Linked DNA regions of Homo sapiens: region 1 is linked to region 2. A link means that fine-mapping ties the variant in region 2 to the expression of a gene that starts in the linked region. Tissue or cell type: unexposed skin. Region 2 holds a variant in brackets; the other region holds the start of a gene. All regions are shown on one strand. Distances are between the middles of the regions.

Region 1 (2,680 bases), 100 kb after region 2:
CTGCACAACTTTTCACTAAAAGATAATGCTTATGCAAGAAATCTTAGTCATGACGAGAGGATGCTTCCTTTGTAAAACATCCAATTTCATGTTCCTAAAATACAACATAAAAACTTCACGTCTTGGTTTTTTTGTTTGTTTAATTTTAACAAATACCAATCTCCTTCTAAACCTTCAAAATTTCAAACCTGTGTCTGCCCAGGGAAGGCAGGCATCAGCTCCTCCACAGGCAGTTTCCTTCCCTCCCTTTCCTCTAAGCGGGGAATCTCATTCCTAGTTTTCTGCCCCAGGGTCCTGTCAGTTCATCCCCGGCCTAAAGTCCCCTCGGGAGACGAAAAAAACGCCAAGTATCCCCGCAGAGATCGGGGTAAGACGCAGTTGAGTCTTGCACACGCCGCATCACGAGGCCGCGCGAGTACAATTTCAAAACTTAAGCTGCAGGTTTCATTTAAATTTTTAAAAAATTTTTGTAAAAATTAAAGGAGAAAACCTAGCTCCCCCTCCCCACGCCTCCTCCTCCCTCTCGGGTCCTCAAGGCCTAAAGCCAACCCGGGGAAGGTAATGGGGATGGGGGATGCGCTCCTCGCCGGCGAGGCCCCGGGACAAAGTGCGGGGCCCCGGGGGCGGCCGAAGCGGGCCCTTCTCCTTCCAGGGCCGGTGCGCGCCCCCCGCCGGATCCCCTGGAAGGATCGGCGGGCGCAGGCTGAGACTCAGCCTCCAGGCCCGCGAGCGGCCGGGGCGCGCTGACAGCTGCCCCGGGCCGGGGATGCGCGGCTGACCTGGTCTCGCGAGCCCCAGGCCCTACCCCGGCCCAGCCCGGCCCAGCCCGGCCCGCGCGGCTGGAAAAGGATACTCCCGGGTGCGGAAGGCCTCCTGAGTGTGCGGGATGGTGAAGAGCGGCTCCTCTCCGGGCAACGGCTTCACCAGCGGGAAGGGCTTGCGGCCCAGGAGCGGCGCCATCGCGGCGGCGGCGGTGGGGACTGGCGGCTGCTGGGGCCGGCCCCGCGGCGCAGCACTAGGCCCCGCGGCCCGGAGCGAGCGCCAGGCGCCCGGGGGTGGGGTGGGGGAAGGGAGGGGTGAGAGGGCGGCGCGAACTCCGGCTCCCTCACCGCCGGCGCGGCCGCGCGACAGTCATGGAGCGGAACGCCACGGCGCAGAGCTCCCGCGCACACCGCCGCGCCTCCCAGCAGCCCCCCGCCGACCTCCGCTTCGGGTCCCGGCGGCCGGCAGTCACGACTCCTCCTCAGCAGCACCGGAGGAAATTATTGAAAAATGGCGGGAGATTCCCCTCCTCCCCCGGGCCCGGCCAACGCACACACTAACTTGCTCCCCCGTGGCGCCGGTGGCGAATGCTCCAATAGGCGGAGAGCTGGTCAGCGCTCACAGCCTATTGGCTCGGAGGAGCTGCCGCTCCGCGCCTGGGTCCCGCCCCCCTGCCCCTGTCGCGTAGTTGGGTTGCAGCGCACTAGAGGGCAGTCTGAAGAGGTGAAAGGTCACGTTATGTAAGCGCCCGTGATAGGCGTGCGGGCCTCCGACGGCAGAGTTAAAAGTGGGGGACAGCGGGGGATGGAGAGGACGAGAACTCAAAGAGGTCAAGCCGGAGAAGCCCCTCGCATATACAGATACTGCGCCATCTGTCACCGACGGCGACACCGACATCCGGGCACCACTGTCCGTGTGGTGCGCCGGAGGGGGAGGGTGAGCGCGCGGCCAGGGGCTTTGTCTTTCCTCTTGGGCGCCTCCCCCTTCTTAAAGGCGCCGTGCTCGGCCACGCCCGGGGATGCGCGGGTGGGGCTGGGCTGCAGGGAGGGGTTGGCGGGAAGTGGCCCCGGGAGCTTACCCTACCAAAGGTTCTGCGGAAGGACAACGTGGGGGCCAGCTTTGCTCACCCCAGAGTTAACTTCTGGGCGGGAGTGTGGTTGAGATCTGGGTAGAAGTATACTGCTTGTTTCTAGGGGCTGGCTGGAAAGTAGAATATAGAAGCTTCTTTGGAGAAATAGATTAAAAGACGTACTTAGTTTTTTGGTTTTTGGTTTTTGTTTTTTTTGAGACGGAGTCTCGCTCTGTCGCCCAGGCTGGAGGGCAATGGCGCGATATCGGCTCACCGCAACCTCCGCCTCCCGGGTTCAAGAGATTCTCCTGCCTCAGCCTCCCAAGTAGCTGGAATTACTGGCGTGCACCACCACGCCCGGCCAATTTTGTATTATTAGTAGAGACGGGGCTTCTCCATGTTGGTCAGGCTGGTCTCAAACTCCCGACTTCAGGTGATCCGACCGCCTAGGCCTCCCAAAATTATCATTATTTTTTTTTTTGAGACGGAGTTTCACTCTTGTTGCCCAGGCTGGAGTGCAGTGGTGCAGTCTCGGCTCACTGCAACCTCTCCCTCCCGGGTTCAAGCTATTCTCTTGCCTCGGCCTCCCGAGTAGCTGGGACTACAGGTGCGCGCCACCACACCCGGCTATTTTTTGTATTTTGTAGAGACGGGGTTTCACCATGTTGGTCAGGCTGGTCTCGGACTCCTGATCTCAGGTGATCCACCCGCCTCGGCCTCCCAAAGTGTTGGGATTACAGGCGTGAGCCACCACGCCCTGCCAGAGCTGTGACTCTGGCTTTTTTTTTTTTTCTCCCATGATACTCAGCACCTGGCTCGGAACATTGTAGGTGCTAGTGAATACTATTT
Region 2 (2,680 bases):
TGACTGAAAAGGGGCTGGGTGTGGCAGCTCATGCATATAATCCTGGCACTCTGGGAGGCCGAGGCAGGAGGATACATTGAGGCCAGGAGTTCGAGACCAGCCTAGGCAACGTCTCAAGACACCATCTCTACAAAAAATAAAAAATTATCCAGGGCCGGGCACGGTGGTTCATGCCTGTAATACCAGCACTTTGGGAGACCAAGGCGGGCAGATCTCTTGAGGTCAGCATTTCGAGACCAGCCTGGCCAACATGATGAAACCCCATCTCTACTAAAAAATACAAAAATTAGCCAGGCCTCGTGGCACACGCCTGTAGTCCCAGCTACTCCGAAGGCTGAGGTGCGAGAATCACTTGAACCCGGGAGGTGGAGGTTGCAGTGAGAAGAGATGGCACCACTGCACTCCAGCCTGGGCGACAGAGCAAGACTCCATCTCAAAAAAAAAAAAAAAACAACAAAAACACTTAGCCAGGCGTGGTGGTGGGCTCGGGCTCTGTAGTCTCAGCTACTTGGGAGGCTGAGGTGGGAGGATCATTTGAACCTGGGAGATCGAGACTGCAGTGAGCCATGATTGCACCACCGCACTCCAGCCTGGGCAACAGAGTGAGACCCTGTCTGAAAAAAGAAAAAAAAGCACCTGTTTCTGCGGGGATGTCAGGGGCCTCCTTGCAGGCCTGGCCCCACCCCCAGGCCCACACCCAGGCCCTGGTTCCACAGATCATGGCACATGGCAGGCAGGAGAAGGGACAAAGAGGAATAGAGGGAGGAGGAGGCCCGGAGCTCCAGGATAATACAGTGGGGGGACAACAGAACCCCAAATGGCCATGAAGTTAGCAGATCGAGGACCCAGGTGAGTGTCTCCTCCTTGGGGTGTCCAACTCTCATTTCTAGAGGACTTCATTCAACAGATACGTACTTAGCACAGTGCTGAGGGCACGGCAATGAATTGGACCCAGCCTGGGGGACAACGGGGTGGGAGATGACAAGGCAGGTTAGGTGGGTATGCCCTGGAGGGGGTGATGACCAAGTCAAGTCCTAGGACTGAGTTAGCTCGAACTAGGTTAGGTACAGCTCGGGCATACCAGGTGCAGGGGCCTCTTGAGGAGTGAACGGCAGACTTTGGGTCCTGCCCGCAGTCAGTGGGACTGGAGTACAGTTAAAGACTGGGTGTGGGATGTGCCGTGGGGAACCCCCGGGAGGCTGGATCTGCCATGTGCTGGTGTAAGGAGGACCAAGGGCTGCTGCTTACAAGTCAAGCAGGGGTCCCCGGGTGACCTGGAGATAGGGTGCAACTCTTCTTCTTCTTTTTTTTTTTTGAGACGGAGTCTTGCTCTGTCGCCCAGGCTGGAGTGCAGTGGTGCAATCTCCGCTCACTGCATCCTCCACCTCCCCAGTTCAAGCAATTATCCTGTCTCAGCCTCCCAAGTAGCTGGGACTACAGGTGTGCACCAACAGACTTGGCTAATTTTT[G/GT]TATTTTTAGTGGAGACAGGGTTCCCCCATGATGGCCAAGCTGGTCTCTAACTCCTAACCTCAAGCGATCCACCCACCTCAGTCTCCCAAAGTGCTGAGATTACAGACTTGAGCCACCGCACCTGGCCAGTTGCAGATTTTTTTTTTTTTTTTTTTTTTTGAGATGGAGTCTTGCTCTGTCACTCAGTCTGGAGTGCACTGGCGTGATCTTGGCTAACTGCAACCTCTGTCTCCCAGGTTCAAGCGATTCTCCTGCCTCAGCCTCCTGAGTAGCTGGGATTACAGGCGCACGCCACCATACCCAGCTAATTTTTGTATTTTTAGTAGAGATGGGGGTTTCACTAGGCTGATCTCCTACTCCTGACCTCGTGATCCATGCGCCTCGGCCTCTCAGAGTGCTGGGATTACAGGTGTGAGCCACCACGCCTGGCCCAGGTGCAGCTCTTTTAAAGTTCCTGCTGGGCTGGGCACAGGGGCTCACATCTGTAATCCCAGCACTTTGGGAGGCCAAGGCAGGAGGATTGCTTGAGCCCAGGAGTTTGAGACCAGCTTGGGCCACATGGCAAAACCCCATTTCTACAAAAAATATTTAATACAAAAATTAGCTGGATGTGGTAGCTTGAGCCTGTGGTCCCAGCTACTTGGGAGGCTGAGGTGGGAGGATGGTTTGTGAGTCCAGGAGACAGAGGTTGCTGTGAGCCAAGATCGCGCCTCTGAACTCCAGCCTGGGCGACAGAGTGAGACCCTGTCTCAAAATAAAGCTCCTGCTGTGACCAGGTGGGGCCACTAAGCACTCATAGGAGGCTGGGAAAAACTTAGTGTAGGGCTGGGGGCAGGGAGTGGCACCCCCCACCCTAAAGACGTCCTGCCAGAGCAAGGGTAGTGGAGACAGGTACCCTTGTCCCCGCCCCGGCACACATCACTGGGGCAAGGTGAGGGGCTGGGCCAAGTGCTACCTGCCCCTTGGACCAGGGACTGACTGCTACCTGGGGGGACTGAAGGGAGACAGTAGGGAGGAAGAGGCTGTGCCAGTGGGGGGCGGGGAGGCCCACTCCTATCCTGCACACATGCCCCAGGCTGAGAGAGGACGTGGTCTGCGGAGGCTGAAGGTCACAGCCCCACCTGCCCCGCCGTGCTGGGCTTTGCCCCTCATACCTGGAGAGGCGGGTGGGCCGGGAGCCAGGGTCCTGCGTTGGCTGCAGTGGCCCGCC

Direction of the effects. Positions count from the first base shown, and alleles are read on the strand shown. Sizes are in standard deviations (SD) of each study's normalised expression.
In carriers of allele GT in region 2, the expression in unexposed skin of the gene that starts at base 1,320 in region 1 tends to be higher than with G alone (small effect, 0.30 SD a copy in GTEx).

Evidence for each region. PIP is the estimated chance that this variant, and not a neighbour inherited with it, causes the effect.
Region 1: BAZ1B starts here. The variant in region 2 is fine-mapped to the expression of BAZ1B in unexposed skin (GTEx, PIP 0.93).

Annotation. Positions count from the first base shown.
Region 1 is chr7:73,520,974-73,523,653 of GRCh38, forward strand. It overlaps BAZ1B (bromodomain adjacent to zinc finger domain 1B), which reads right to left and starts at 1,320. Exons shown (of 20, transcript NM_032408.4): 1 at 854-1,320. The coding sequence starts at 960. RefSeq lists silencers at 564-1,443, 1,794-1,933 and an enhancer at 1,504-1,663.
Region 2 is chr7:73,421,200-73,423,879 of GRCh38, forward strand. No RefSeq gene overlaps it. Among named protein-coding and RNA genes, the nearest start is that of FZD9, 11 kb to the right of the region's middle. The variant G/GT (reference allele first, on the strand shown) is at 1,470.